7 linked regions of the Homo sapiens genome follow. The protein of the gene in region 7 purifies or fractionates together with the protein of the main gene of each other region. This does not show direct contact. Each region holds a gene or a part of one and is shown on either strand. Other genes may lie near its edges. The genes, in order: POM121, ARHGAP29, CCDC14, ZSWIM8, MYO10, VANGL2 and JPH4.

Evidence for each region.
Region 1: the proteins of JPH4 (region 7) and POM121 purify together in Homo sapiens (co-immunoprecipitation; 3 studies listed by BioGRID and IntAct, with this or other methods). This does not show direct contact.
Region 2: the proteins of JPH4 (region 7) and ARHGAP29 purify together in Homo sapiens (co-immunoprecipitation; 3 studies listed by BioGRID and IntAct, with this or other methods). This does not show direct contact.
Region 3: the proteins of JPH4 (region 7) and CCDC14 purify together in Homo sapiens (affinity purification with mass spectrometry; 2 studies listed by BioGRID and IntAct, with this or other methods). This does not show direct contact.
Region 4: the proteins of JPH4 (region 7) and ZSWIM8 purify together in Homo sapiens (co-immunoprecipitation; 3 studies listed by BioGRID and IntAct, with this or other methods). This does not show direct contact.
Region 5: the proteins of JPH4 (region 7) and MYO10 purify together in Homo sapiens (affinity purification with mass spectrometry; 2 studies listed by BioGRID and IntAct, with this or other methods). This does not show direct contact.
Region 6: the proteins of JPH4 (region 7) and VANGL2 purify together in Homo sapiens (affinity purification with mass spectrometry; 2 studies listed by BioGRID and IntAct, with this or other methods). This does not show direct contact.

The regions. Positions count from the first base shown.
Region 1 is NC_000007.14:72,938,272-72,942,481, reverse strand, and holds part of POM121 (nuclear envelope pore membrane protein POM 121), read right to left. Parts: intron 3,893-4,210; coding exon 3,801-3,892; intron 3,147-3,800; coding exon 3,073-3,146; intron 2,636-3,072; coding exon 2,514-2,635; intron 2,069-2,513; coding exon 1,966-2,068; intron 1,666-1,965; coding exon 1,489-1,665; coding exon of another isoform or gene 1,471-1,488; intron 646-1,470; coding exon 1-645. UniProt on the Homo sapiens protein: Essential component of the nuclear pore complex (NPC). The repeat-containing domain may be involved in anchoring components of the pore complex to the pore membrane. When overexpressed in cells induces the formation of cytoplasmic annulate lamellae (AL).
Region 2 is NC_000001.11:94,230,673-94,234,882, forward strand, and holds part of ARHGAP29 (rho GTPase-activating protein 29), read right to left. Parts: intron 972-4,210; 5' UTR 940-971; coding exon 735-939; intron 1-734. UniProt on the Homo sapiens protein: GTPase activator for the Rho-type GTPases by converting them to an inactive GDP-bound state. Has strong activity toward RHOA, and weaker activity toward RAC1 and CDC42. May act as a specific effector of RAP2A to regulate Rho.
Region 3 is NC_000003.12:123,947,545-123,951,754, forward strand, and holds part of CCDC14 (coiled-coil domain-containing protein 14), read right to left. Parts: exon of another isoform or gene 1,589-4,210; coding exon 1,352-1,588; intron 1,242-1,351; coding exon 1,147-1,241; intron 1-1,146. UniProt on the Homo sapiens protein: Negatively regulates centriole duplication. Negatively regulates CEP63 and CDK2 centrosomal localization.
Region 4 is NC_000010.11:73,795,108-73,799,161, reverse strand, and holds part of ZSWIM8 (zinc finger SWIM domain-containing protein 8), read right to left. Parts: intron 3,624-4,054; coding exon 3,499-3,623; intron 2,842-3,498; coding exon of another isoform or gene 2,759-2,841; intron 2,649-2,758; exon of another isoform or gene 2,389-2,648; coding exon 2,148-2,388; coding exon of another isoform or gene 2,143-2,147; exon of another isoform or gene 2,050-2,142; coding exon 1,891-2,049; exon of another isoform or gene 1,786-1,890; coding exon 1,557-1,785; intron 1,382-1,556; coding exon 1,092-1,381; exon of another isoform or gene 933-1,091; coding exon 709-932; exon of another isoform or gene 161-708; coding exon 1-160. UniProt on the Homo sapiens protein: Substrate recognition component of a SCF-like E3 ubiquitin-protein ligase complex that promotes target-directed microRNA degradation (TDMD), a process that mediates degradation of microRNAs (miRNAs).
Region 5 is NC_000005.10:16,698,223-16,702,432, forward strand, and holds part of MYO10 (unconventional myosin-X), read right to left. Parts: intron 3,617-4,210; coding exon 2,741-3,616; intron 1,352-2,740; coding exon 1,228-1,351; intron 1-1,227. UniProt on the Homo sapiens protein: Myosins are actin-based motor molecules with ATPase activity. Unconventional myosins serve in intracellular movements. MYO10 binds to actin filaments and actin bundles and functions as a plus end-directed motor.
Region 6 is NC_000001.11:160,413,677-160,417,886, reverse strand, and holds part of VANGL2 (vang-like protein 2), read right to left. Parts: intron 2,240-4,210; 5' UTR 2,050-2,239; coding exon 1,979-2,049; intron 1,826-1,978; coding exon 1,705-1,825; intron 1-1,704. UniProt on the Homo sapiens protein: Involved in the control of early morphogenesis and patterning of both axial midline structures and the development of neural plate. Plays a role in the regulation of planar cell polarity, particularly in the orientation of stereociliary bundles in the cochlea.
Region 7 is NC_000014.9:23,568,550-23,572,759, forward strand, and holds part of JPH4 (junctophilin-4), read right to left. Parts: intron 3,372-4,210; coding exon 3,253-3,371; intron 2,912-3,252; coding exon 2,379-2,911; intron 1,169-2,378; coding exon 1,085-1,168; 3' UTR 1-1,084. UniProt on the Homo sapiens protein: Junctophilins contribute to the formation of junctional membrane complexes (JMCs) which link the plasma membrane with the endoplasmic or sarcoplasmic reticulum in excitable cells.

The sequences.
Region 1 (4,210 bases), on a different chromosome or scaffold from region 7:
AGTCTGTGGATGGACTGGCAGAGGTGATGGGAGCCACAGCAGAGGTGGCGCTGGCCAGGCCAGTGAAGAGCGGGGCAGTTGTGGTGGGAGCAGTGGCGGGAGTAGTTGTCTGCTTGAAGAAGGGAGCAGGCAAGGGCACAGATGCAGGTGGCCCCATGCTGCTAAAGACAGGCTGGAAGGTCGGGGCTGTGGTGCTGGTGGTCGTGGGGAGGGAGGAGCTGGAGGGCGCTGTGGCTGTGACTGAAGGGCCAGGCGGTGTGGGGCCTTCCTTCTCACTCTTGGGTGGAGCCGTGAAAATGGGCTTGAACATGGGAGGTGCTGAAGATGCAGCAGGGGCGGCAGGGCTGGAAGGTGAGGTGTTCTGTGTTCCAAACAGGAAGCTTTGCTTGGGGGCGGGGGACGGGGCAGATGTGGCTTGGGGTTTGGTAGCCGTCTCTGCCTGAAGGGTTGGAGGTGCCTTGGTGTCAGTGGCTGGTACCATGGATGGAGCAGGGATCAGCCCCAGCAAAGTGGTCGGGGGTTTGGAGTCAAAGGAGGGGCTGGGGAGCAGCCCTGGCGGCCCTGACTGTGATAAACCCAGCGGGGGTAGGAGGCTGGGTGTCTTTGGAGGTGAGAGGGCCTCAGTGGTTGCTGCTCCAGCAGATTCTGGAAGAAGAATAGAAAATGTGAAATTGGAATAAACACTTCAAAGATGATGGTATTCAGTATTTCAGTGTCCTCCCCACGCCTACCACAGAGCCTGGGATCCAAGAGTCAGTCAATAAACTCAGCTAAGTCTACACTACAGGCCTGTACAGTAAATCAAGGAAGTGTTATTTCTACCTCACAGATCATCAGACAGAAGGGGATAAAATGGGGCCTAAATGGGGGCCTAATGTGTAGAGACTAAGACAGTCCAATTGTCTGAACTCTGAAGTTCACGTATGAATCTAGATATACTTTATTTGCCTACTAAGCTCACCTGCCAGGCGCTAAGAGCACACAACTATGAATGGGGAAGTCTCTGCCCTTGAGCAGGGAGGGTGCGTACGAACCCCAGGTTACCGTCTGATAAAGAGGTGTGCGCGCGCAGTGCCGTGAAGGCCTGGGCCGGGAACACCAGCAGCCCTCGAAGTGCTGGAGGGAAAGGAAGCAGTGCTGTTCTGGACCAGTGGTTCTGACAGGCAAGGATATCCTGACCACGCCACCACATTCACACTTCAGAGGTGCCGCACAGGGAAGATCATTCTCATCTGACAGATGAGGAAGGCGAGGCTCAGGGCAGCTACGAGCCAGGCTTCAGATCCTGAGCGTCGCAGCACCCCTTCTCTAACACTTCCTGATGCGGGCTCTGGCGCTGTTAAACGTGGGCCCGCTCCGGTGTGCTGAGCCAGGGTGCGTTCGGCCTGCAGAGCAATCTCCAGCGACTGACAGGCACGACGCCCTTATTCCAACTCAAGCCGGGGATGCTGCTCAGAAGGCTGGATCCACGGCCCCACTCCAGCTCACCTGGGCAGGGTGGCAGGCTCGGGGGAGTCTGCATCTTCTTCAAGCTCTCTAACAGTGGGTTGGTGCTTGGGGCCAGGAGGGAGGTGGGTGGGGAGGCAGGTGCAGCAGCAGGCAGGGTAAAGGTAAATGAAGGCTGAGTGATAGGTGGGGTCTCAGTGACAGAGTTCGAGGCAGCATCTAAGAAAGAAAGAAAGGTGAAGCAGTCCTGGCTTGTCTGGGACTTCTTTCCACATGCCTGTCGGAGAGCAGGCTCTCAGCACAGCTCATGGAGGAATGCCTGCCCTCAATTGCAGTGGTCCCTGCTGTCCAGTTCCCGTGAAGACCAACACGGATATCTCAGGTGAGAAAGACCACAAGAAAACATGGAACCCTACTTGGGATTTTCCCAGAGAAACCCATTTTTTCAAACACCAAAATAAAACCAAAGAAAACAGACACCTGAAACCTCTCCAGTGTGCAACAATCTGTGCTCCTTACCGCTCTTGTCCTCCAAGGCCTGGTTGAACCACTGTAATGAAGCCTTCTTCTCTAAGTCTAGGTCCTCGGCAGTGATCGAATAGCCAAGCTGGGGAGGTGGAGGCTACCAAAGTGAAAAAGAAGAAGTCAGGCCAATCAGAAAAAACGGGAAGGCTAGGCATGGTGGCTCACACCGGTAATCTCAGCACTTTGGGAGGCCAAGCCAGCTGGATCACTTGAGGTCAGGAGTTTGAGGCCGGCCTGGCCAACATGGTGAAACCCCATCTCTACTAAAAACACAAAAAATCAACCAGGCGTGGTAGCAAGCACCTGTAATCCCAGCTACTTGGGAGGCTGAGGCAGGAGAATTGCTTGAACTCAGGAGGCAGAGGTTACGGTTAGCCAAAATCGAGCCACTGCACTCCAGCCTGGGTGACAGAGGGATGTTGTCTCAAAAAACAAAAACAAAAATAAATTAGAAAAAAAATCAGAAGAAACTTGTCCTTAGCGTTCCTAATACTTAGGAGAGCTAAGCCGGGGAGGGCAGGAGTAGATGGACAAGACCATACCAAGGTCAGCTGTTCCCCTCGCCGAGAAGGCAGCAGCTGAACTTTCCGCTTACGCTGCCCAGAGCTGCCAGGTGTAGACTGAGAATTCGAGTTTTGTTTCTTCCTTGGGGTTGTATCTGCAGCTAAAGAAAGAAATCAAGACTCGTTTGCTTCCTTCCCTCTTCCAGAAATGGATGGTTGTGTCTACCCACTTCGCATTTCACATTGAGTTTTCAATGGGTATCTCTGAAAAGATTCAATCTTCTATGGTTTGGTTGCTTGGATGGTGTTTGCAAGATTAAGGCGCGCACACAAACCGCTTACTGTGCAGTAATTACTGGGATCACCCACAGGTGACTCAAACTGAGCTTACCTCTATCCAATCGTTAGTCCCTGTCTGTAGCCTTTCTCCCTCATCAGACTATAAACTTCTGAAGGAGAGGAAATCTCTCTCTTTGTATCTAACATGCCTTAGACATAGCAATGCTCAAGACCTTTTTTCAATAGGTATTAATCTCTACATCCTCCACAAACACCTCCACCACCAACAGCAGCCCCTCCTCCTGGCTCAGCAACCTACCCTTTTCTCCCTGGGACTCCCTGTCTGCTGCCAATGGAGTTGAAGAACTGGAATGATGACACAGCTCCTCTTCTCTGTCAGGAAAAAAGGAACAATTTAGTCTAGAAAGGCTTCTTGGCTGAAGTATTAAATAATTTCTCACACCCTCCTAACTACCAAGTGGCCAATGTCTAAAACAACCATCATTTAAGATCTCAGTATGCCAGGATAAAAAAAGTCAACAGGAAATTCCAACAGAATGAAGGGAGGCTGTTCACAGAGGCCATGAAGACAGCTTTTGTCTTAAAACAAGCACAAAACAATAATCTTCAAACCTTACTTACAACCTATCAAGTCCCTGGGAGTTCTAGACACAGATGTGATCCCTGAGGGAGTGGCATTCCAGCCAACTGCAAGCACCTAGGGGGTCAGCTCGAGTCAAGAACCTGAAGGCGACTGCCCGCTGACTTGACTCTCTCTGCTCTCCACTCTGCATGGCCTCTGTGCTTGCACCCGATCCCTCATGCTGGAGTGGGAGGCGACAGCCAGAGGCCACTGGAGTCAGTATCCAAGACTGTAGGGATGACAGCACTTCGGGTGGGTACTGCATTGTACCTCTCAGGGACTTAAGTTTCTTTGATTCTCCAAGTCACAGCAGCACAAAGCCTAAGAGCCAGGTTCGTTTCCCACCTTTCCTCACCCCCGCCTGTCCACGCAGCAAATGAAAACTGCAGGAGAATGCCAAGTACCTTATTTTCTTTGCTGGCCTCTCCGGTGTCTGGGAGCGGGAGGAGGCTGGGCTAGAGAAGGGTGATGAACTGGGGCCATTTCTCTTCCAGAGCTAAAAATCAAGAGGGACATGACTGAGCCTGCTGATAACTTAGCATCTGACCCTCAACACGACAAAGTCTCTTTTCAAGTGACTAAAAAAACATTCTTTATGGTTAAATGGTTAGTCATGCCTGTAATCCCAGCATGCTGGGAGGCCAAGGTGGGAGGATCGCTTGAGCCCAGGAATTTGAGCCCAGCCTGGGTAACATAGCGAGACCCCTGTCTCTACAAAAAAACTGAAAAATCAGTTGGGTGTGGTGGTTTGCATCTGTGGTCCCAACTACTCAGGATGCTGCAGTGAGCTGAGATTGCCCCACTGCACTCCAGC
Region 2 (4,210 bases), on a different chromosome or scaffold from region 7:
ATCTAGACATACCATTATGAATATGGAAATGAAACTGCCATTTATCATAGAAGAATAGGAGCTGTTTTTGTAACTATTTATTATCCTTGCCATCAAATTTAGACCTAAGAGGCACTAAACATTGAAAGACAGGTACTAAGAACAAGTCAGAGATATACAATCTTTTACTTTAGAGGAACAGAGTCTCATGCTCCATTATTCATTTCTAACTAGACAGAATTCTGTGATTAGCCCTTAATTCAAGATGTTACAGATCAGCAAAACAGAATTAAGTCTGATTTTTGTTAAAAAAAAAAAATGCAGTCATTTTAGATACCAAAACTTCATCTAAAATGTGGAAAGGTGAATTTAGGTAACAGTGTCAACAATGTAAATTATAAACATTAGTCAGCTTATTTAAGACCAATCAATGCACTGTGTTACCATTAACAGAAAGGTTAAAATTCCAATGATGTCAAATTTTCCTACGTCAAATGGACCCAACCACAGGAATCAAAGATATTTTTCTTTTTTGTATTCTTATTCCCTCACACTGAAGTTTCTATTAGGTATTACACTATTATCTGATTATAAAATAGTTTACACTGTAACCATCAAAGATTTGGGGAAAAAAGCACTAAAATAACTAAAGCAGAATACCCTGTTCCTACCACTGTGTACAAACTTATCTGCTAGGCCAGCATTTAAAATTTTACAAACTATCCAGCAAGAATGCTAATAGAAAAGTGACAAACCTGAAAATATGGCTTCTTTCAAATATAGTAACATGTGGGAGAACTTCCTGATATCATTCACCAACTCCTTGATGTAATCCGGATCAAAAATAGAGTTGGAACTTAAGGACTTGAGCCCCATTTCAGAAGTTGTAATATCAGTAGAGAGTTGACCTGATGCCCAAGCACGTTTTTTCTTTGTCTTTTTCTGTTTGTGAGCAATCATCCTTTCATGTAACAGTCAGAAAAACTGAAATCCTTAAGGGGGCAAGAAACAAAACAAAAACAAGCGAGGAGAGAGAAAGAAACACAAAAACTAAATCAGCCAGGGAAATATTACACTAGATTTTCACAAACAGCCCACAGCTCACCTTGGTATCCTATTTTTAAATTTTTAAAAATCAAAAATCAATAATCAATCACTGTATTATTGATAATAGCAGTTTCCATTTATTAAATACCAGTAATTCCGACAACTCTGACATGCAAACTACTGTTCTTTACATTTCACAAATGAGGAACCTGAGGTTTAGAGGTTAAAAATTTGCCTTAAGCTCTCAACTGATAATGAACTAGGACTTAAACCTGTATCTGCCTTGATGCCAAAATCCATGCTCTTAATAACTTCCTCTTGATTCCTAGGGTATAGAATTTTATTTAATTGTAAAAGTTGTTCTGAAACATCACTTAGTAGAAGGTCATATTCTCCTTCCATGACATCACCTTCAAAAATAAAGATGAGATATGGGCTTTGAAAAAAGAAATACCTGTTCTTAAAATCCTCCTCTGTCACTTATTGTATGATCTATTCATCTCTTTACTTCAGTATGCTCATTTATAAAATGGGAGTAACATCCTGACAACACCTATCTCATGAGATTGTAGGGATTACATGACGCGATGATACAGAAGTGTCGAGAACATAGAAGTTCAATTACAGTTAGTTTTTCCTAATAATGCATATACATACATATACACAGACACACACACACAACACATCCTGGATTACCAAGTCTCATCAAGGATATTTCTTTGTTGAAAATAAGTTACAAGGGTGCCCACTAATCTGACATACTCTGACTGGTTAAATAAACACGTGTGATCATCAGAGCAATATTTTTGATAATCTCAGGATGGTAGTAAAAAGGTAATCTTTTGGTATGAGAAGAATTTAGATTTGAATCCTGGCTCTAGTATTTTCTAGATATGTGACCAGTACAATTTATTTACAGGCTTGTGTGAGGATGAAAAGGGATCACAAAATTAGAAGACTTCATATGTTAAAACACCTAATACTGGCACATAGCTGGAACTCAAGAAAATCATAGTTATTTTCTTCTTCACCCTCATTTTACCTTTCCAGAGTTAAAAGTTCTAATCTTGTTTGTATCTCTGGAAATCAAAAAGGAAATAACCGGAGGAATTAAATTAACTCACACTTTATTATTAACACTTTTTTTCAAGTATTTTGTCTTGAATATTTGGCTACTTTAAAAATGGTAGATGACTAAGGACTTCTATAAAATTTACAGTAGAAAGTTTTTTGGTTTTTTTTTTTTTTGGAGGGGGGAAGGGTTGAGTCTGGGTCTCACGCTATCACCCAGGTTGGAGTGCAGTGGTGTGATTATAGCTCACTGCAGCCTCAAACTCCTGGGCTCGGGCCATCTGCCCGCCAAAGCCACCCATGTAGCTGGGACTCCAGGGGCACAACACCACACCTAGCTAGCTAAAAAAAAAATTTTTTTTTTGTAGAGATACAGTTTCACTATGTTGCCCAGGTTGGTCTCAAACTCCTGGGCTCAAGTGATCCTCCTACCTCAGCCTAGCTAAATGCTGGGATTACAAGCATGAGCCACCATGCCTGGCCCACTAGGAAGTTTTATGTAATATCCGTTTCTAGTCATATGTAAGATACATTATTGTATCATTTACTCCTTCCTATATCTCACCCAACTCCATAGTTCATTTTTCTTTCTGATCTACAGGGTTCTCTAATCAACCCACTTCTCTCTACTGCTACCACACTAGTGAATTACCATCATTTCTTTTCTGAGCTACTATACTACTTTCCTAATGATCTATCTGCATCCATTCTTGTCTCATCACAAATGTAGTGAGTGAACATTTCAAACATAAATCTCATAATGTCATTTCTCTACTGAAAACCCTTCCAAAGTATAAGTGAGAAGCTATCATGCTCTACAAGGCTCAACATGAGATCTGGCTCCTACCTACCTGTGCAATGTCATATGGAGACACACCTGCTGGCTCTCAACACTCCTGCCACACACACCTCCTTCTCATTCTTCCAACAGTATTTGTTTACGATGACTCTCACCAGGAAATAATTTTACATAATAATACATGTTAAGTGTATTATGTTTGTGTGTGGCATGCTTCTGGGTAAGGCTCCATGGGATGTATGTGAGTTTTTAAAAATTCCATCCCATTTCATTTTTAAAAATGCTGGGTGCAACTCACCAACTTGGTTTCATACACATAATAGGTCATGACCCTACAGTTTGAAAAACACCAACTGTTCAGCTCAGGGTCCTGTCTATATGTAATTCTATTTGCCTGGAATATTCCTTCTCCTTTGTTTACTCACTCTGATCTCAGCTCAAAGCTTACCTCCTCAAAGAAACGTTCCTGGACCATCCCCATCCCCCAGCAAAACCACTACCATCAAACCAGAGTAGAATCTCCTGTGAGATGTTCCATAGTATCCTCTACTTTTCATCACTGCTCATACCACAGTTCAAATAGATCATGTCTTCCTAGCTAGAGTATAATCTCATGGAAATCAAGACCATGTATGTCTATTTGCTAACCATGTGTTCTCTGATCATAGCACAATGCTTGGCGTATGAGGAATGAACTACTTAGAACTATCTGCAGATAGGCTTATAAACTTATAAAGTTTCAATTAATTTTTATAGAAACAAAAATAACTCTGGGTTGTTGCAATGTTTTGAAGTGAAAATATAAATTTTTAAAAAACTCTCTAAAATGGTATGTTTCAAAAAGAAAAGTATATGAAGCTGAGGGAAGATTACATAAAACTGAAATCAAAGTTGGATTTCTATTATTGCTCCTCCTGATTATTAAACTGGGGACCACACTTTATAATTTTTAAAGTTTGTTTATTCACTGTCCTTTTGTCAATCTCAAATTATTTCTGAGAATCTAACTTCTACATTTAAACTAGTTTCAAACCTATCTAACATTAATCCTTATATGCATACATCATTTCTAAAATGAATCTAGGGCAATTTTTGAGCATTATTATTATATCTAAGTCTTCCTTCCCATCAACAAAAACAAAACAAAAATTCAAAGTGTCTTTTTTGGGCAGCTCTTTTACAAATCACTAACCAAAATGCCTATTAGCCTAACCAAACATCACTCTTGCAGTTTACTTAATAACGTCATTCTGTTTAGTTATGACAGCTTTTAAACTTGGTAAATTAGAGAATTGGTCACTGTCACTGGTAAAG
Region 3 (4,210 bases), on a different chromosome or scaffold from region 7:
CTGAAACATTTCTGTAAATATGTTTGTGCAAAAACTTTTTGTATGTTTAAACTTATTTTCTTATGATGTAATTTCCCAAAGTGGACTAATTTTTGATGCTTTTAAACCATCTGTGGTATTTGTAAACAGTCTATTTTAGTCATGGCCTTGTAATGCTCCCATATTACAGGGTAAATTAAGCTTTAAAAAACAAGAATCTTTATTGCACTGAGGAAAAAAATCCAACTTACTTTTAAGCTAAAAATATTAGTAAGTTTCTGATATTAAAAACTTGCTTATTAATAATAATATTAATTATAAGAAACTCAAATATATGGTTACTACTCCTAACCATATAGTAGTTACACAGACTATGGTATATCCAAAAAATACAGTATTAACAAGTTATTAAAAATTCAAAGGGTATATATTAATAAACATGTTTTTAATAAAGTATTAAGTGAAAGCAGCAGTATATAAGACTGTATTGTTGACTTATAACTTTATTTTAAAAGGAAAGCAAATGTTAACAAATACAAACCAGAAACTAAAACCTATACAGAGGATTAAACGATTGGAAAGAACTCTATCAGTGTGTCAACAGCAGTTGTACTTGGGTGGTCAGTATGGTTGATTTTTTTCCTCCTACTGATCTCTTCCCCTCTTTCTCCTTCATTATTGTCATTAATAAATAGGTAAAACTTTTCTTTCTTTTCTTTTTTTTTTTTTTTGAGATAGAGTCTCACTCTGTAGCCCAGGCTGGAGTGCAGTGGCGCGATCTCACTCACTGCTACCTCTGCCTCCTGGGTCCCGGTTCAAGTAATTCTCCTGCCTCAGCCTCCCGAGTAGCTGGGATTACAGGCATGTGCCACCATGCCCAGCTAATTTCTGTATTTTTCGTAGAGGTGGGGTTTCACCATGTTGGCCAGGCTGGTCTTGAACTCCAGACCTCGTGATCCACCCACCTCGGCCTCCCAAAGTGCCGGGATTACAGGCGTTTAGCCACGGCGCTCGGCCATAAACATGTAAAACTTTTATAGCAAAAAAAAATAAACAACTGGTCTTTAAATCCTAGTGCATTAAGTTATAAGCAATAAATTCAACAGTCCCTCCTGAATGACTGCTATAAGCAAATAGTTACTTATGTAGTATAAGAACTGTACGCACAGAATGAACCTTTGGAGGGCAGGGTGGCCGCTGAAGTGACCAGACTGGGGTGGAGGTACATAAGCCATAACTAGAATGAGGAGTTGCCTGAGATTCTGTAAGTAAGAGGGAGAAAAAATTAATCACATATCCTACTTTTTATACAGTAACCAAGCAATTTAATTAGAACTTACACTCACGATTTTTAAACAGCATTCGTACTCACCAGAATGAGAGGGAGCATGGCATGGTACAGCAGGAATTCCATTAGGGATGTTCTTTGAAGTCAAGTCATTCATCAGTGACATCTGAGTCTGCACGTGCTCACAGAGGGCTTGGTATATTATGGGTGAATACATTCTATAATGATCTTGCAATGACCAGTTTTGCTCTAGGTCTGATGTGTCTCTTTCACTTCTAGCAGAAGCTTCATTAGGTATCTGTTTCTTATTATCTGAAGATGCTAATGTGGAAGAAGAAAAAAGTTCTTGAAATATGATTCTTCAAAAACTTTTACCGTAAGATTTTAAGAGAAGAAAGGGCTCTCAGAAGTAGTCCAATCCATCACATACTTCATAGAAGGGCTTTACCACTATCACCCCTACTAAAGAAAATCATCTCAAATTCTTTCTGAAAGTAATTAGTGTTTAAGTTTCCCCAGTCAAAAATCATCTATACTAATTCTTTACAATTCCCATTTTTTATGCTACTTGCCATTTGTAAAATCTCTCCTTCATTTTAACACTTCTTTTAAGGGAGTTATATTATCCCTAAAGTCCAGTCAAACTCCTTCACCTTGTTCCTTGTCAGTTCATGTTCTCAAGGGAAAATGCAATAGGAAAGAGAATAGTTTGTACAATTCTGATGCTTTGGGTCCTCAAAAACAAAACAAAACAAAACCAACCAAACAAACAAAATCTTGGCCTGGCATTTAAAGTTTCCAAAGCTTGACCACAAGCTACTTTTCCAACTATCGCCCCATCACTCCCAACTCCAATTTTTCATTTCAGGCAGGCCAATTTAGTTACCCAACAAGCTTTTCTCACCTTCCAATAACATTGTTCATGAACCATTCCTACCAATCCAATTCTACCCACTCACCAAGGCTCATCTGAGTTTTCTTCTTCCATGAAGCCTTTTCCAATCCAATCATTCCAGTCTAGTGACTACTCTTCACCACCCTAGAGCACATATTGTCTATAGAAATCATATGCCACTGACACACTGCCTTATATTGCTTATCTTTCATCCTCCTGCCTTTCTGACTAAACCACAAGTTTCTCTAAGCAGGGCTGTACTTCATTGTTTTCTCTTACAGAACCTAGTATTAGTCTATGAACAAGGTAGAAATCGGTATTAACAAAGTAATAAGTAAAAAACAACAAAGTTTTCTACATAGCACTACCTATAGATTGGTATAACAATCTGAATACTATTTCCCTAATTAGGTCCCCTTCCCAAAGGTTTTTTAAAACACTATTAACAGAAATGAAAATATTCTGGTAAATCATAGGTTATCAGTATACAAAATAAATTTAGAAAAATATATGGATATTTGTCACACCTACCAAAGCTAAACGTACATATATTCTATGAAATAACAATTCCACTCCCAGGTATACACCAATAGAAATGAGTGCTTATGTCTACTGAAAGACATGTGCAAGAATGTTCACAGCAGCTTGATTTGCAGTAGCCCAAAGCTGAAAACACCAAATAGCCATGAATAGCAGAAATGGATAAACTGTGGTATACTCGCAGGCTGGAATACTATACAGCATTAAAAAACCAACAAAGTACTGATATATACAACTACCTGGATGTTTAATACACTTAAGGCTGACTGAAAGTGGTCAAACACAAGGGCGCACAGTGTTCAATCACATTTATAGGAAGTCATCAAACAGGTAAAAGTCACAAATGGAAACAGATGTCAGGAAAATGGTTACACAGGGATGAGGGTCTAGGTGATGGTGAGGGTACTGACAGGGAGGGAGCCTCGCAGGGTGCTAAAAATTGTCTGTATCTTGATCTAGGTGGTGGCTACAGGGGTGTATACGTATGCAAAAATTTATTGAGATTTATGTACTTTAAAATTATTTATGAGAAGTATTCCTTAATTTTTTAAAAAACAAAATAATTAAAAATTTAAAAGTAGAGAATCCCTCAAATATAGTTTATTGAAAATAAAAATATTACTAAAAGTGTAAAACTTCCATGTAAAAGCAAAAACAGAAAAAGTTAAAGGCAGATTTAATACTATAACCAGTGAAAATAGAAAAAAAATTTAAAGAAAAAGACAATATTTGACTACGAAAATGGCTGAAGATATCAGATGCTTCCCTTTTGACTTGGGGTATGCTTCCTTTTCAGATGATCTACTCCTATAAATGTACTTTCCAGACCTAAATACAAGCTTTAACACTTATTAGCTGAGTAACCTTGCGCAAATTAACTTCTCTTGACCTGTTTTTCCTCATCAGAAAAATTTTAATAATGCCTATTTTATAAGATTATTGAGAGATGTAAATGACGTAACACTTGTAAATTTCTTAAAGCAATGTCTACCACACAGTAAAAACTCAATGTTAAATATCACCAAATAGCTGCACTCTTACAATAGACAAGTAAATATATCATATTCATAAATCATACTATCTGATGTCAGTAATAAACCTCTGAACATGTCCCCTCTGAGATGATTAAAATCAAAAGTAATAAGAGTTACCTTCACTATCTGATCAGCTCAAACAAAACTGGTTAATAAACTTTTGTAAAGCAAATACTATTTCTTACCAGAAATACAATTTTATAATAAATCAAATGGAAAAGTGCCCTCTAAAATATTTTAACTTTGAAATCTAAAATGATAGAGGGTGAGATCATAGCCCATGGCCATCTAGCATACCACAAGTCCTTTCCTCTTGATTCCTGGGTCTTTCCTTCTGCTCTTGGATTTCCTCTGGTCCTTAAGAATTGGCTAGTTTGAAGAATTCTCAGATTTCACACACAGGTCACAGCATCAGGCTCTCATTTACTTTCTTTTCAAGGCGTGGTTTTCACAGTTTCTAATAAAGCTGAGCTA
Region 4 (4,054 bases), on a different chromosome or scaffold from region 7:
AGCTTGTAGCCCCTTCACGGGCTGTGGATGAGCCACCTGCAGTTTGCTCATACAGCCAGAACCACTGGTGAGCAACCTCAAACAACACTTCAGGGTACACGCCCCCACCCTTAGCTGCCTCTTCCACTGCCATGCAGGCCTTCTCCAACATCAGGTTGTCCTGGAAGAGAGGGGCACAGAGTGTTAAGGGGGAAAGGCCTTTACCACATGGAAGGTGTTAGATGAGATTCCAATGTCTCCCTCAGAGCTGTCTCATTCCCAGGGAATCATCAGAGGTCAGTGTCAATGCTTAGAGTCCATTATCAGAGCAGTGAGTGCTTCACACACTGAGTAAATACTGACCAAAATGAGTCAAGACCCAGGTTATAGTCCCAGTTCCAAACTAATTTAACAGCCCCCTCCCATTCAAGTCTTAGATGTATGAGGCCTTCCCTAAGTTTTCTATCCTGAGTGATCATCTTGGTCCCTAAACCGTAGGCCTCCATTTCCTTATCTGTAAAATAGAAATAAACCTAACCTTTGAGTTGTAAGGTAAAGGAAAGATGGGTGTGAAAGCACATTAATGGGTAAAATGTTGCCATGAGAGGACCAACAATCATCTGTAAACTCCAGGATACGGGAATCAAGAGCTGGGCCCTTAGCTTTCCCATGCCCAACCTCCCTGCCCAGATGCCCCAGAAGAGGTTCCCAGATTGCCCGTAGAAATACCTGTTCCTTGCACTGCACCAGGGCCCGCTGGATCTCATTAGGGTTCAATGCATGGGCGTGAGGCAGGCAGCTCAGGGCCAGCTCTGCTGCCGCCCTCACCATATTGGAGTCTCTTGCCCGTGATGCCCTGTCAGCCAGGGATGCAACCTCAGGGGGTGTCAGGTGCCCATCCCAGCATTCTACCAGTATAGTCAGGGCTGCGCTGCCTATCTCCATGGCCTGGCCTTAGGGGAAAGGAGAGAAGGGCAGAGTTGGGTTAGTGTGGGCACCACTGGGGTGTGAGAATAATGTCTTTTTATCAGATCAGTAACCCCACAAAGATAAGGGTCTTATCCCCACCAATTAATCCCCCTCCCATACCCAAGTCAGGTCAAATGATTTACCTGTAATCCAGGAAACGTGGGAAGAATAAGTACGTGAGAGCCAGTTGGGAGAAACAAAGTTGTGCAGGCCAAGGGCATAAAGCCCAATCTCGAAGGCGCAAAGGTGCAGGTTGCGGTGAGGACCCTGGTGGCCCCCTGAGGAAGATGGATGTGTGAAAATGGAAGTGCTGCTGTTGCCCCCTGCCTTGATCAGCACTGTCTTCGCCAGCTCGAAGTAGAAGTGTGCAGCTGCCTCTGATGGCTGATTGGGTACATGAGGGGCATGACTCTCGGGGCGGCGGCCCTTGTACCTGAAGGGGCAATGGGGTAGGGACGGGGGTTGGGGTTTCTTTGAAATGGGCATCCGGGTAGGTTGGGAAGGACCAGGGAAAGTGAGGATGCTGGGAGACAATGGTTGGATTGCACTAGGGGTGTGGCTCTGAGGGTGGGCCAGATCAGGGAAGATGGGGAGTTCTTCCCACTGACCTGCCAACTTCAACAGTCTTCGCCCGGGCTCCTCCACTGGCACTGGCCCGGCGACTTCCACTGGAGGATGAGGAGCCCAGGGAGTCCGAAGAAGAGCTGCTAATGCTGTCACTGTCCTGACCTCGACCCCAGGAGGTGGGGGCCCAGCCCCCTCGAAGTGGTCTCCGGCTTAAGGTGGGGGAACTATCCGATGTTGTTTCAGGGGCACTGCTGTCAATGCTGGCCATGCCTAACCCCCAAGAGAAGTCAGTCTCAGAAGTCAGGAGTCCCAGATGTTAAGACTCCAACCTTCAGGATTATCCTTCCCTCTATGCTAGCCCACAGGCTATCCTACCTGTGTGCTTCTTCTTAGGCCGTCCTGGGGACCCCCATCCCCGTCCATTATAGCCTCCACGACTGCCAAGTGCCAAGCGGCTAGGAACCTTCCCTTCTGGCCTTGGGGTCAAAGCTGCCTCAGATGGAAGACCCTCACAGGGGGAATGTGGGGAACTCTCTAGGTGAGGAAAACAGGACGCTGGGATGAGCCCAGGAAAGGGGACCTCAACATAGGTCCACACCATTCATCCCCCCTGCCCAGTGCCCCCACCTCACCAGGCACATTCTTCTCTGTGAAGCCCTCAGTGGGGCCTGGCCCAGCCCCTGCCACACTCCCTGGTTGAGCAGGCCCTGCAGAGCCTGAGGTCAGTGGTTGCAGGGCCCCTGGGGCAGATGGGCCCCCGTGCTTTGAAGGAGACCTCTGGCTGGCTGTGGTTGGGCGGCTAGATGAGTAGAAAGAACTCAGCGTCTGTGGCTTATGTGTCTGGCTCTCTCGGTCCAAGAGTTTGTCTAAGATCTGGAAGACAGAAGCAGTGACCTCCAGAGAAGCAGTGACAGGATGCCCTTTAGCTCCTGACTTCTATTACCTTCCTTTCTCCTTGAAACAGCCAATTGCTACATCCTCAGGGAGCCTTCCCCACTTACAACCACAGGATGACCTCCTGGTTTACATGTCTTTTTGTAACTTATTTAACCCCAACATATCTTGGTATCCTCCATTAACACCACAGGGCAGAATATACTGATAGTCAATAAATACTGAAATAAGTGAATGAATGACTTTATGCCCTCTGCTTCTCTTCTTCCACCCCATGCCCAAGCACTCCTATAAGAACCATTGGTCTTCTCTTATTCTTTATGAGATGTCCCCAAGATTCCCTACTTACCTCCTATGGGCAGAAGAGCACTTTTCTTTTTTTCTTCTTCTTCTTTTTTTTTTAAGAGACAGGGTCTCGCTCTGTTGCCCAGGCTGGAGTGCAGTGGTATGATTATAGCTCACTGTAGCCTCAAACTCCTGGGCTCAAGCAATTCTCCCACCTCAGCCTCCCGAGTAGCTGGGACTACAGGCGCGCGCCACCATGCCCGGCTAATTTTCTAATTTTTTGTAGAGACAGGGTCTCACTATGTTGGCCAGGTTGGTCTCAAACGATCCTCCCGCCTCTGCTTCCCAAAGTGCTGAGATTACAGGCATGAGCCACTGCACCCAGCCTAAAATAGCACTTTTCTCATTGTACTGGAAACTCCCTGAGAAAGGTAGTAAAATGTGCTCTCTTTCTCTGCCTGTCAAAGGCCCCAGTACCTTGCCTTTTTTTTTTTTTTTTTTTTTTGAAACAGGGTCTTGCTCTGTCACCCAGGCTGGAGTGCAGTGGCGTGAACCCAGCTCATTGCAACCTCTGCCTACTGGGTTCAAGCAATCCTCCCACCTCAGCCTCCCGAGTAGCTGGGACTACAGGCATGTGCCACCACACCCAGCTGCTAATTTTTTGTATTTTTTGGTAGAGACGGGGTTTCGCCATGTTGCCCAGGCTTGTCTCAAACTCCTGGGCTCAAGCCATCTGCCCGCCTCTGCCTCCCAAACTGCTGGGATTACAGGCATGAGCCACCGCACCCAGCCCCAGTCTCTTACCTTCTTAAGCTTGGCCTGGTCGTCCTTGTAAGTGATCATTAGTGCTAATGCCAGGTCACCCTTCTCCCGACGTGTGCCTTCACATAAGAGGGGATGTTCTGCCTCGCTCACTGTTGTCTTCATGCCTGCGAGAAAGAGGACCTTATGGGGATTGAGAGTAGTCATAATTCCCAAGACAGCAAAGGTAAGAGGCCAGGGTTCCCAAGCCATCAGCATATGAAGTAAGGGGTTCCCTTGGTCCAACCCACATCACCTATAGAAGTCTTCGTTGACTATTATATCCAGCCTAAGCTCTGGTGTGCTTTTCAAAACCTTCATAACCAGGTCCAATCTGCTTACCCAGCATGTACTTATCATTTTAGGGAAGCTGGCCTCCTCATTCTCATGAAAACTTGATTGCGTTGTGTATTTACTCATGGTGTTCGCTGGTTTAGGACCTACTGATCTTTTAACCCACATTCCATATTCTACCACTTCCCTTAGGCCTTTCTCTAGATTTTTGTTTTGCTGCCCTTACAATACCCAATACCCATAGCACACAATTTTTTTTTTCTTT
Region 5 (4,210 bases), on a different chromosome or scaffold from region 7:
CATGATGGTGTGCGCCTGCAGTCCTAGCTCCTATGAAGGCTGCGGCAGGAAGATGGCTTGAACCTGAGTTCAAGGCTGCAGTGAGCCATGACCACACCACTGCCCTCTAGCTTGGGTAACAGAGCAAGACCCTGTCTTAAATAAATACCTAAATAAATAGATAAATAAATAGTAAATAATTTTCCAAAAGGAGTGTGCCTCAAGGCCCCTAAGTGTTAAGGTTCAGCAAAGTATACTCAAATGTTAGTAACAATCAAAGCATACAATGCAAATGCTCATCATGAAGTAGGTATGGTGAGCAGTTCAAGCCAGCAGTGGGCCTCAGTGAGATCTTCACTTTCCCCCATGTCTAGCACATCCTTTTAGGCTCTCTAATATCCCTGGCAGGAGAGAACATGCAGTTTTTTTTTTTTTTTTTTGAGACAGCGTCTGGCTCTGTCGCCCAGGCTGGGGTGCAGTGGCGCGATCTCGGCTCACTGCAAGCTCCGCCTCCTGGGTTCACGCCATTCTCCTGCCTCAGCCTCTCAGGTAGCTGGCACTACAGGAGCCCGCCACCGCTCCCGGCTAATTTTTTGTATTTTTAGTAGAGACGGCGTTTCACTGTGTTAGCCAGGATGGTCTCGATCTCCTGACCTCATGATCCACCCGCCTCGGCCTCCCAAAGTGCTGGGATTACAGGCGTGAGCCACCACGCCCGGCCGAGAACATGCAGTTTATCATGAGAATGGGTCTCGACCAATTCCAGCAGCAGCAGCAACACACACATTGGTTTGTATGTCTGTATATATGAGAGAGAGCAATGAGACTGAGACAGAGAGGGAGACAGTGAAAGAGAAAGTGGGAGAGAGAGGGAGAGAAAATAGAAGGATGAAGAAAGAGCTAAGAAAGGAAAACGAGACAGGGAGAGACAGGGGAGAAGGACTGATACTGGAGGCAGTGGTTGCAAATGCTTCGTCCTGCCACTCTGCACCAAACCAGGGGAGTCACGACTGTGTTCATGCTGGTAGGACCACAGCACCCATGTCACACCAACATGACAAGGTGTCCCTTCATTCATCTAAGTGGCCCAACACTGAGGTAAGGGTAGGTAGAACGACTTTCCCAGTCCCCATCCATCAGCCCAGATACAATAACACCTCCGTTATTTCCCACCGCCATCCATCAGCCCGGATAAAATAACGCCTCGCTCTCCCCCTAACCCAGACTCCATGGCGGCTGCAGTCATACCTTTCATGTACAGAAAGCTGTGGAAATACGGCAGAGTGACACAGCTGTACACAGAGTCACGCCGGTATGAAAGCTCATCATCTGTATCAAACCTGGAATCAAAGTCCTCTTCACTATCTTCAAACTGGACCGAGAGAGAGAAGCCAACGGTGAGGGAAAAGGCCACAAAGCAAGCCACGAAGATACCCAGCATGTATCATCATTGAAAAAATACAAAAATACAGCTACTCAAGAGGCTGAGGCAGCAGAATCACTCGAACCCAGGAGGCAGTGACTGCACTGAGCAGAGATCGTGCCACTGCACTCCAGCCTGGGCAACAGAGCAAGCCTCAGTCTCAAAAAAAAAAAAAAAAAAAAAGGGAAAAGGAAAAAGAAAAAAAACAACTGACAAGCAATACGCCTGATTTACGGTAGCACACAAATAATTCGGAATTAAAAATACCAACTTTTAAGGTCAAATGGTCAGTTGAATTGATACATGAAAGACAAGATATACTTGAATCCAAAGGCTATCTGCCCTAAAACTAACAATGCTTTTTAAGGCTATAATTTTAATCAAACCATGCAAGAGTTCACCCCCTCTGAATTACTATATTAAATATATTTTCAAATCTTTGAAAGTCAAGAGAACATTCAATGCACGACCAAAGCGACAAAATAAAAGTAAACTACAGATAAATCCAGAAACTGGAAAAGAGTACATTTAAGCCCTGCAGCTTCTTCCTTTACAGCCACTATAAGAAATAACATCGTGTGGTTTGGATTGTGAAGTTAGTACAAGGAAAGTTTGCCAGTTCACCCCTGGCAAGTCTTGTTCCAGTTCAGGATGTGTCTTCATTTCCTAACGCAGCACGGCAAAGCTAAAAGTTCCATTCAAATTGTAAAAAAAGGGAAGGAAGAAATAAAATAAAATAAACAAAAGTTCCATTTAAAAAGCCAGTTTTAAGCCGGGCATGGTGGCTCACGCCTGTAATCCCAGCACTTTGGGGGTCCGAGGCAGGTGGATCACCTGAGGTCAGGAGTTCAAGACCAGCCTGGCCAACATGGTAAAACCCCATCTCTACTAAAAATACAAAAATTAGACCGGTGTGCTGGCGGGCATCTGTAATCCCAGCTATTCAGGAAGCTGAGGCAGCAGGATAGCTTGGACCCGAGAGGTGGGGACTGCAGTGAGGCAAAATCCTGCCAATGCACTCCAGCCTGGATGACAGAGAAGACTCCACCTCAAAAACAACAACAACAACAATAAATAAATAAATAGCCAGTTTTCTGAAGTCTTGGGCACAGCTCAGCTCTAGGCTTTGTGCTAAAACTGAAACAGGCACATCAAAGTTCTACTTATGAATGCAATTGGCTTATGGAATAAGCAAAAGGTTTAAGATGATCTCTAAGACCACGACTCTGCAATCTTTGCACAGATATCCTACGGGTATCTTCATTCAACTTGAGGATGCAACAGGGGTGGGTGTGACCGGCCACCCATTTCACTGGGACACGCCAGGCAGGTACTTACCGAGGACTGCGCCCCCTCAGAGCTGAACCGGTAGGCACCCGAGCTGTTGTAGGTCCCCACAGAGCAGCGGTAGTCGGGGGACCACTGGCTGCCGTAGGAGTTGGAGAAGGTCACGCTGCTGCCGGAAGTGATGGCACCGTCCTCATAGTCATCCTGGTCGTAGTCGTAGTCGCCGTCTGGGGAGGGCAAGTCCCCAGCGTTCTGGGGCATGCAGTAGGTGGACTCGCCGCTGGAGGAGTTGTGTAGGCTCCCGGAGTCCTGCACTGATGGGGCGAGCAGCACCGTGCTGTCCGCACTGGGGCTGGTGGGCACCACCGTGTCGTTCATGTATGGGTCCTCCTCTGAAGAGTCATCGCTGGTCCGGATGCCACTTGTTCGCTGGTCTGAGTGGCCGTGCTCGCTGGGGTTGGGGGAGTCCTTGAAGGCGTCGTCGTCGGCTTCGAAGCCCTCATCGACCTCCTCCTCTGGGTAGGGCTGGCTGAAGTTGAAGTTGGGCTTCTCCTCGCATGCGCTCTCAGCCAGCTCGCTGGAAAATTCGCTTCCCACCGACAGGGACCGCTCGATATTCCGGACACACTCGTCGATCTCGTCGAAATTGAGGGACTCGAGGAACTCCTGGGCCGCCCTGCACGCTTCCTCCTCCAGCCTGCGGAGCTCCTGGTCCCGCCGCTCCTGCAGCTTCTGCAGGGAAGCCTCGGTCAGCGACAGCTCCTGCTGCTCCTTCATGCGCTGCAGGTCCTCGATTTCTTTCTCCAGACGGAGGATCTCTTCCACCTGCTTATTTTCCTTCTGTTTCTCCAGTTCACGGGTCAGTTCAGCTTCCTTCTGGCTCTTCTGCAAGGCTTCGAGTTCTTGCTGCTTCCTCGTTTCTTCTTCCTGGACAGAAGCAGAAGGGAGATTTCAGAAGGCTTCAGTACAAAAGTCCAAGCATAGCTCCCGCTTTGCAACCAGGATGAAATATGGTCATTATGAGTTGGACTGTGTCCCCATAAAGTCTATAGGTTGAAGTCCTAACCCCAATACTGCAGAATGTGACTGCATTTGGAGATACAGCTTTTAAAGGGGAGACTAAGTTAAAATGAGTTCACTAGGGTGGGCCCCAATCCAAGATGACTGGTGTCCTTTTGGGAACAGGAGACTAGGTCACACAGAGAAAAAAGGCTGCGTGAGGACACACTGGACAGACGGCCACCTGCAAGCCAAGGGGAGGGGCCTCAGAAGACATCAAACTTAAGGATAACTTGATCTTGCAGTTCCGGCCTCCAGAGCTGGGAGAAAATCAGTTTCCACTGTTCAATCCACCAGTCTGTGGTATTTGGCTGTGGTGGGCCTAGCAAACTAACACGCTGGTTATACCGATTTAGAGAAATTATACTCTTGTGATGCACACTAAAACCTCAGCCATTCACTACGCTTTACCCAATTGTAATAGGTCAGAAATTGGATCATAAACACATCCTCTTAAATTGT
Region 6 (4,210 bases), on a different chromosome or scaffold from region 7:
CCTTCCAGCATGCCATGATTTTGGCAGAAGCTAGAGGAGGAGCCTCCAGGGCAGGAATGGCATGAACTGAGGCACCCAAGGGCTATGAGAGCAGAGGATCCCTGTGCAGAAGCACAGCAAGGTGCAACCAGGAAGGTAAGGCAGACAGCAGCCAGGCAGGGCTTGTGCAGGCCACGCTGCAGTGCTGGGCTGGGCAATAAGCACCTGTTCTCCAGGCATGGAGAGCCACTGAAGGAGTAAACCTGATCAAAGCAGCACAGAGAAGAACAGAAGACCCCAGGGGTAAAGGGGTGAAGGCGTGAAGGACACTGTGCAGACTCAAGGCCACTCTGGGTCTCTGGTCTGCAAGGCCACCTCTGCTGGGCCATCTAAATGTCTACAGTGCAGAGGCTACCTGTCTCTGGAGGCAAGAAGGTGGCCAGGCTGAGGTCCCCAGGTGTCCCTCTAAGTGTGGTCTGCTCAAGCTGTTTCTCTGCAGTGGCTGGAGGCCATCCCACGGAGGAGTCCCAAGACCACCAGCTGCCTTCAGCACCCACCCTTCGCTCCTGGGACAGCCTGGGGATATGGAATCACAACCTGACACCCAGGAGGTTGAGGTTACAGGATGAAGGCAGCCCGACAGCACCAGTGATTAGGGAGGTTGAGGAACCTCCTCTCTACAGGATGGGGAACGAGTCTGATGTGAAGATAGAAAGCAGATGCACTGACTGCCTTCAGCTCAAAGCCCTGGGTCTGCTCCCCGCCCTCTGACCCCTAGACATACTGCCCACCCCCTCCAAGGACCAAGGGCTTGGGATCTCCTCCCCAGTAGCAGGTGAGCTGGTCATGTCTCAGGGTCACTTCAAGAACTCAGGAGGCCAGGCCCCAGGAAGAAGGGATTGGGAGAGAGGGAAAAAGAACATTTCCTTCAGGTATTGACCTGCTCCCAAGGCCCAGGAATTCCCAATGTCAGCCACAGAGATTTCTTCTGAGGAAAAAGGAGCTGGGAATCTCCAGCCCCCAAAGATGATCCCAAGGGGAATGAGACTTGGGCAACCTCAGTGTCACCTAAAATCCTGCCTCTGCCCTATTCCAGGACTGTGTTCTGCCCACTGTCCTCCCTACCAGGTGAGCACAGTGGGCAGCAGAGGTTAGAATAGAAAACCTGCTCACCCCTGTCCTGGAGAACTCTCTCCTGGGGTCCCTGCTCCATCCCTCAGCCTTACTTCTTGTCCCTTGGGCTTTCTCCATCTACTCTTCCCATACTCCTTTCCCAAGATCTAGGTGACGCCATTCTACAGGCTGACACCAGAGGGCACAGAGTGCCCACATCTCGAGGCTCCAGGAATACTCAGCTTTGCTCACACATACCCCAGGCCCAGCCACCACCACCACCCTCCTGCTCCAGACTCCCAGCGGGCCTGACTGGCTGGCGGCAGCTCCAGAGGAGCTGGCCAATTCCCATCATACAGCCCAGGTCACCCCCCACTCCTCTGGAGATAAGGAAGGAGAGGCTGCTGCTTCCAGAGGGATCTCTATACTGAAATTCCTGAAGGTCCTACCTTAAGACACTAAGCCAAGCTAAGTGTAACACAAAACACACTCCCCGATCTGATGGCTGTCTGAGACCAGGTTTCCAAGCCCTCCCCCACTCCGTGGAGCCTCCAGCCCCTCAGGAGCAGTCTGAAAATGCCCGGTCTGGACCACCGCATCCCCAGTGCTCACCCGCTCATCCCCTCGTGTGGACTCATTGTCCAGCAGGGGCTCCCCGGGAGCCTGGATTGTCACCGACTTGTCCCCTCGGCCCCCATCTCGACTCTTAGAGCGGTGTCGGTCCCGGCGGTCCCTGCGGCAGGAAGCCAGAAAAGGCACAGAAAGTCCAGTGGTGGACCAGGGTCTTCTCAGCAGCCACTCTACCCTACCACCCCTGCACGTGCCCACCTCTTAACAGCCCCCAACCCTCCCTCCGCCACGCATGTCACCCTGCATGCCTGCCCACCTGTGCTTGCGGGAGCTGCGGGAGTGGCCCGACTTGTAGGAATAGCCCGAGTACTGGGACTCGGTGTCCATGGCGTCTGAACGCCGCGCCTTGTAGCGCTCCAGGGCCGCAGGCTGGGGCCTCTTGGGGGGCCCCACAGCCACCTCCTTCAGCACCGGCTTCTTTAGGCCAAGAGGCACCTTCAGGAAGTCAACTGTCACCCTGAGGGACTCTATTTTGCTGGACGGGTGGGCTTGTCTCAGAGAAAATCCAGCGACGCTCCTGGTGAGAGGAAGAAGCTAGTTAGAGGCGGCTCGAGCTCCCTGTGGGGTCAGGGCAGAGGAAGACCATCTGCACACAACAGCCACAGGAGGCTCAAATGAGCCCAGCCATAGCCTGAGAATATCTCCACCCAGGTTCCTGCTGTCCACTGGGCCCAGTTCCTCCTACCCTTCTCTAGAAAGAGCCCTGCCAGGCTGTGCCAAGGACTCAGGCATGGGGGAAGATGGCCAGCAAAGGCTCCCAGGGCAGGAAGGCTCACCCAGAATGACCCAACCCCAAGCCCTCTGGAAGGGAGGAGCAGGGCATTGCTTCCCTATTCTCAGCCAGGGAAACCGAGGCATGAAGAGGGCAGGTTCTGGCCAGGCCAACAGGCTGAATCAGTGGACACCTCAGAGAGCAGAAAGGAGCGGGCTTCTGTCCAGGGGCTACCCCAGGCCTCTTCTCCCCATGCTACACCTCCTCCCCTCACTCATACTTTCTGAGTGTGCCCACAGTGGGCTGCTTCCCTTGATACCATCTCCCCAGCATTTACTTCAAACACACCCAGTGTTACCGGTAAGATCAGGCTGGCAGCTTCCTTGAGGTTGCCACACATATGCACAGCCCCAGGTGAGGGTGAGGGGTGGAAACTATGGATAATATGGTAGGGGATGGGAGGAGAAGACAAGTTTCTACTTGCCTGAAGTTCTGAAACAGGCAAGGCACAAGTTTATCTGCCTATTTATAGGCTTATCTTCAACCATACTTCACCTTCTGATTCTGCAGAGGAGAATGACCTCTCCTCTCTCTAACCCCCACCCAAATCCTGCTCATTCTTCAGAGCCCGGCCCCACCCCCTCATAGGAGCCCCCACCTACTCTAGACCCAATGTTATCTTCCCTGCTGACCCTGACTCCCCTAACAGCCATCACCATCCACCGAGCGCTTACTTCCTATCTTCAGTCATTGACGCATCAAATCTTGTTTGAGCACCTTCTATGAACCATGTATTCTGCTAGGTATAAAGTGGTATAACAGACCCTGAGTTTACAGTCTAGCAGGGAAGGGGCACACCAAACAAGTAAGCAGATAAGTATAAACGACCGATTGCAGGCATGATGGAAGGGCAGAACAGCAAACTATGAGAGACACCCATGGAGTAAGGGCTACCACTTTAAACTTAGCGGTTCTAGAAAGTCTGAGAAAAGGACACCTCAGCAGAGGCCTGAAGAAGAAATAGGAATTAACCAAGCAAAGAGTGCAGGAAAATGCCCATGGAGCAGAGGAATCACATGTGTGAAGGCCAAAGGCAGGAAAGAGCTTGTTGTATTTAAAGAACCAACAAAGGCCAGTGGAGCTAGAGTTGAGGAAGAGAGTGGGTGGTAGAAGGTGGCACTGCAGAGACAGCCAGGCACCAGGTGAAGAGCTTGAGCTTTATTTTATTCTAAGGCCACAGGAAAACTTTGAAGGATTTTAGCTATGCAGATATGGATTGAAAAGAGGGAAAAATAGAAACAGGGAGATCAATAAGGAGGCGACTGCAGTAGTACAGGCTTGCTAAGGGTAGAGCCACAGAAGAGTGAGTAACAGTCATGTTTGAGACTTAATGTTGGTGGTCAAATCAACAGGACCTAATGAGCGGGAAGGGAGAGTTAAGAATCCCCGGCCTGAGCAAGGGAGCAGATGGTAGCACCATCAGTAGGGTAGGGAAGACTGGGGAGGAAGCAGCCTTGTGAGGGAAGATAATTAGTTCAGCTTCTAGCCTGCTAAGTTAGTGGCCATGAGACAGTAGGCAGCCAGGTGTCAGACGAGCCAGACTTGGAGGACAGTCTGAGCTGGAGGTACTGAGTGTGTGAAAAGCTATGGGGATAGATAGAACTCAGATCCAGCTGAGTTCAAAACCTAACTCTTCCATGGACATAAAGGACCCCAATAGGTAGACATGTCCAGAGGAAAAGGAGCAGGCAAAGGGGATGAGAAGGCCAGAGGAGG
Region 7 (4,210 bases):
TGATGTAAAGGGGGAAGGGATATAACCCATTTTGGGACTACTAAACTTGTCACAGCTTCTGCTTCCATGTGAGCTCCTGTTATCTTGTCTGGTCCTATCCCCCAGAAGTGCCTCCTCCCACCACAACTCCCAGAGTTGGGATGTGGGGGCCTTGCTCAAGTGCCTCTAACCCTCTGCAGTAGAAATGTCTTCTTCAGGCCCCTTAGGAATTTAATCAAAGGCCACAAGTGAGTCCAGACCAACCAAATAAACTATTATGGGGGAGACAGAAGGGTGGGAGAAGTCAGTGGCAAAGTCTGGGCAGGGTGGACTTGACTGCATTGGATATTCTCTGTTCCTTTACACGTTGCTCTTGGCATGGCATGCCACCAGAGGGGGCTGGAGGAGGGGCTGGCCGATGAGGAGAAAAAGAGGGAAATGCTGGGGAGTTACTCTACTTTTCACTTCCCTTCTCTCCTTCAGGGAAGGATGGAATTGGGCAGTAACCCAGCTCAGTGCTTGGAGGTAAGATAATAGCCTCCAAGATTAGAGGTGGAGGATGCACCTCCTGCAGCTTTTTCACTAGGCCTCAGAGGGACAGCAGGCCCCTTAGGCTAGGGAGCCACAGCAGCTCAGCCAGTGCCTTGCCCGACATTCAATCACTCCTTCTTCATTTTCTTCCTCCTCTCCATTCAGCTTCCAGGAGTCTCCTTAGGACACCAAACCCCCACCCGCAGCGAAGTTGAGGTCTAAAGAAAAGGTGGGAGGGCGTGGAGCAATGGTCTGACTTAGATTTGTGTGTCTCAGAGAAGACAGCAACTCTGAGAGAGAAAAGCCCTTCATATGTAAACAATCTAGAGAAAGAAGGGGTTGGGATGGGGAAGGGAGTGAGGAATACAGAGACAGATCCAGAAGAAATGAGATAATCTGAAAGAAGACAGGGAAAGAAAAAGCGAGAGAAAAAAACAAAGGAGCACAGAAAAGAAAGGAAGAAGAGAAAGAAAGATAGGAGAAAACACAGCCAGGAAGAGGAGAAGAGAAAAAAGGCAGGTCAAAGGGGTGAAGAGGCACGCAACCAAAGCCAGAACCAGGCCAGGAAGTAGCCTCAGGTGAGGAGCTGGGAGAACAGGAATGCCAGGCTGAGGTCCAGGAGGGCCACGGCTCCCACCACCAGGGGGTTGGCAGCTCCCTAGAGAGACAGAGGGGGAAGCAGACTCAGTCCCCGAGGACAGGGCCCACCTTCCTGCCCTGACTGAGGTGGCAGAGCTGAAGGGTCTCAGGCACCTCCCTGCACAGCCTGGAGCAGGGGGATCGCCAACATTTGTTTTGGATTGCAAAACCCCCTCTTCTCCCAGGCAGGGCCCCACCTTTCCTCTGACACCTTCAATGCAGGGACAGCCCTTCCACCTCCTCCCTCTAGTCCCCTCCCATCAGCATATCATGTGTCCCAGGCAGGAGGTGCCTGGCCTTAGTAGCAGACATTGGCAGCAGCAGCCAGTACTGCAGTAAGGCAGAGGGATGAAGGGGTGAGGATGTGGTTGCTAGGAAACAGAAGGCCTAGAGCCCAATCAGAGTAGAGGGTTCTGGGCAAACTCCGCCTCTCCCGGTTTTCTGCCTTCTTCTCTATTTCAACTTCTTCCCGGGAGAGGGAGGGAGAGTCAGGGTAGGGAGGGAACAATCTTTTCCTTTTTTATTTCTGGGCACCAAAGAGAGAAAGTGCGGAGGTGGGGGTGGGGGTGGAGTAGGAAACTGAGAGCTGGAAATGATATGGAAGGAGAACGGGGGAAAAATGTTCTGGCTCTCCCATTAATTATTAGTTTACAACCCTGGGCAAGTTACTTTTTTTTTTTTTTTTTTTTTTGAGACAGAGTCTCGCTCTGTCACCCAGGCTAGAGTGCAGTGGCGCGATCTCAGCTCACTGCAGGCTCCGCCTCCCGGGTTCACGCCATTCTCCTGCCTCAGCCTCCCAAGTAGCTGGGACTACAGGCGCCCGCCACCACGCCCGGCTAAATTTTTTTTGTATTTTTAGTAGAGACGGGGTTTCACTGTATTAGCCAGGATGGTCTCGATCTCCTGACCTCGTGATCCGCCCACTTCGGCCTCCCAAAGTGTTGGGATTACAGGCGTGAGCCACCGCGCCCGGCCTGGGCAAGTTACTTTAAGTGCTCTGGGCCTCAGTTCCCCCATCTGTCAAATGAGGGAGTTGGGCTTGCAGGTGTGTAAGGTTCCTTCCAGCTCGAACGCCCTCTATTTTTTTGAGGTGGGATGTGGTCCAAGACTGGCCAGGCAGAGGAAGCCGAGTGAGATAAAAAGCCCCCCCGGTGATCAGACAGTTCTGGAAAGGGTGGGAGGCAAGGCTTTGGGAGAAGAGGGCACACAGCAGGGACAGAGGATCTCACCGGCTGGGCAGGCCTCTCGGTTGCAGCGGGCTCCCCGAGCTCTTCTGTCAGGCACCCAGCATCAGGACCCCTCGAGGACGAGCCCCTCAGGACCAGCATGGCGATGGGCTCAGGCTCCGTGCCTGCTGGGGCCCTCAGCGGGGGCAGGGGCTCTTCATCCTCCCCCTCCTCCTCTCGAAGACTTCCTGAACTGTCGCTGCAGCCTCCGAGGAGTGGGGAACCGTCTCTGGGCCCTGGCCCTTGCATCCCAGCCTCATCCTCAGCCTCATAGCCAGCTAGTTCCTCTGCCTGTGCGCCTGCCCCCCCCCACTCCTCAGGCCAAGCTTTGGGGCTGGAGAAGGGACCCTGGTCCCCTCCAGGAGGCAGTGGGCTCCGGCAGGCAGGGGGTCGCCAGGGTTGGCGGGAGGAGGCAGGACTGCTGGGCAGTTCAGGGGATCCCTCTGAGGGGGTCAGTCCGTTCTCATATACCCCAGGGCTGTCCTCATCCAGGGGCTCCGTGTCGGAACCTTCTGAGTCCTGCCTGGGTCTGCGGCCTGGGTAGGGATAGCTGAGAATCAGAGGGGCCTAACTGGCCTTGGGCTGGAGTGGCTGCAGCTTTATTCCTGACTGGGCACTTCCCAGGACTTTGGAATTCCCAGGCTCATAGCCTCTCACCGCCAGACCCCAAACCCCCCATTATCCTACTGCATACATTCCCAAGTCCCACTCCCCAGACTACCAGGTCTGGCCCCCACCCTGTGTTCCTTGCACCCTCATTCCTTGTTTTTTCCCATCCCCACTTCCCTTGCAGGGCTTCTCATCTGTTTCCCCACACCTGAGCCTCTCTAGCTCCCTAGGGGCCTCACTGCCCTCCCCCCAGCTGTCCATGCCTCACCTGGGGCCTCTAGCATGGGCTGCAGGTCCTGGGCTATCAGTTTGGCCATTCGAGCTGCCTCCACGGCCTTCTCAGCGACACTGCTGGCTGCCACTGCCTTTAGGAGGGCGTCTGCTGCCCTGTCGGGTCCAGAGACAGGGATTTAGCAGAACTTCCCCCACTTCAAGTTAGTCCCTGCTCAGATGCTCCAGCCCCCTAGCCCCTGTCCCCTCTACATCACATCCTCCTCTCCTCTGGAGTCGTCACCCTTCGCCACACTCTGCCAGCTGCTTCCCTTCCTGGCAGGCCAGGGCAGCTCCCGTTTGGTTTCCTCCCCCTGACCTGGGCTGTGTTTGCCACCATCACACCCTCCTGCTCCTCTCACACCCTTCTACTGCTACGTCCTGTAGTAACACTTCTTCCAGTTGCAAGGGCCAGGCCCTCCTGGAACTGTGTAATTCCATTCCTATCCTGCCCCCTTCCCAGTGACAGTCGAGACCTCACTCTTTTAGCACATCCCCTGCAGTCCTGCTTGGTGCTTATGAGCTATACTACCACCTTCTTTGCAGTTAGCACCTCCTGTTGTTACTAACCCCTCTCACCCCCCTGGAGTCACAGGCCTCTCTGTGGGGTCTAGCACAGGGTCCTGTACCTTGATCCTCCCCTCCAAGCAGCTTCGCCCCTGCCCCGCCCCCTCGTTCAGAGCCACCGTCTCCCTTATGTTAACAGTCTCTGCCTCCCTTTCTCTTTCTACTGTCACTTCTCCTTACTATTAATCCTACCTCTACCCGTACAGATTTCCTGGCATGAGAACTTCCTATCTTGCGTTCCTTCAGCCTCTTCTGTTATGACACTGTTCTTCCTCTTGTCACTGCTACCACCCCACTGCCCCCCGTCATGCTTTCCTGAGCTCTGGAACTGGAATGAGAGTGGGTCTCCCCTTTCGGTAATGATCCCATCCCCTCTCCCTACTAACATG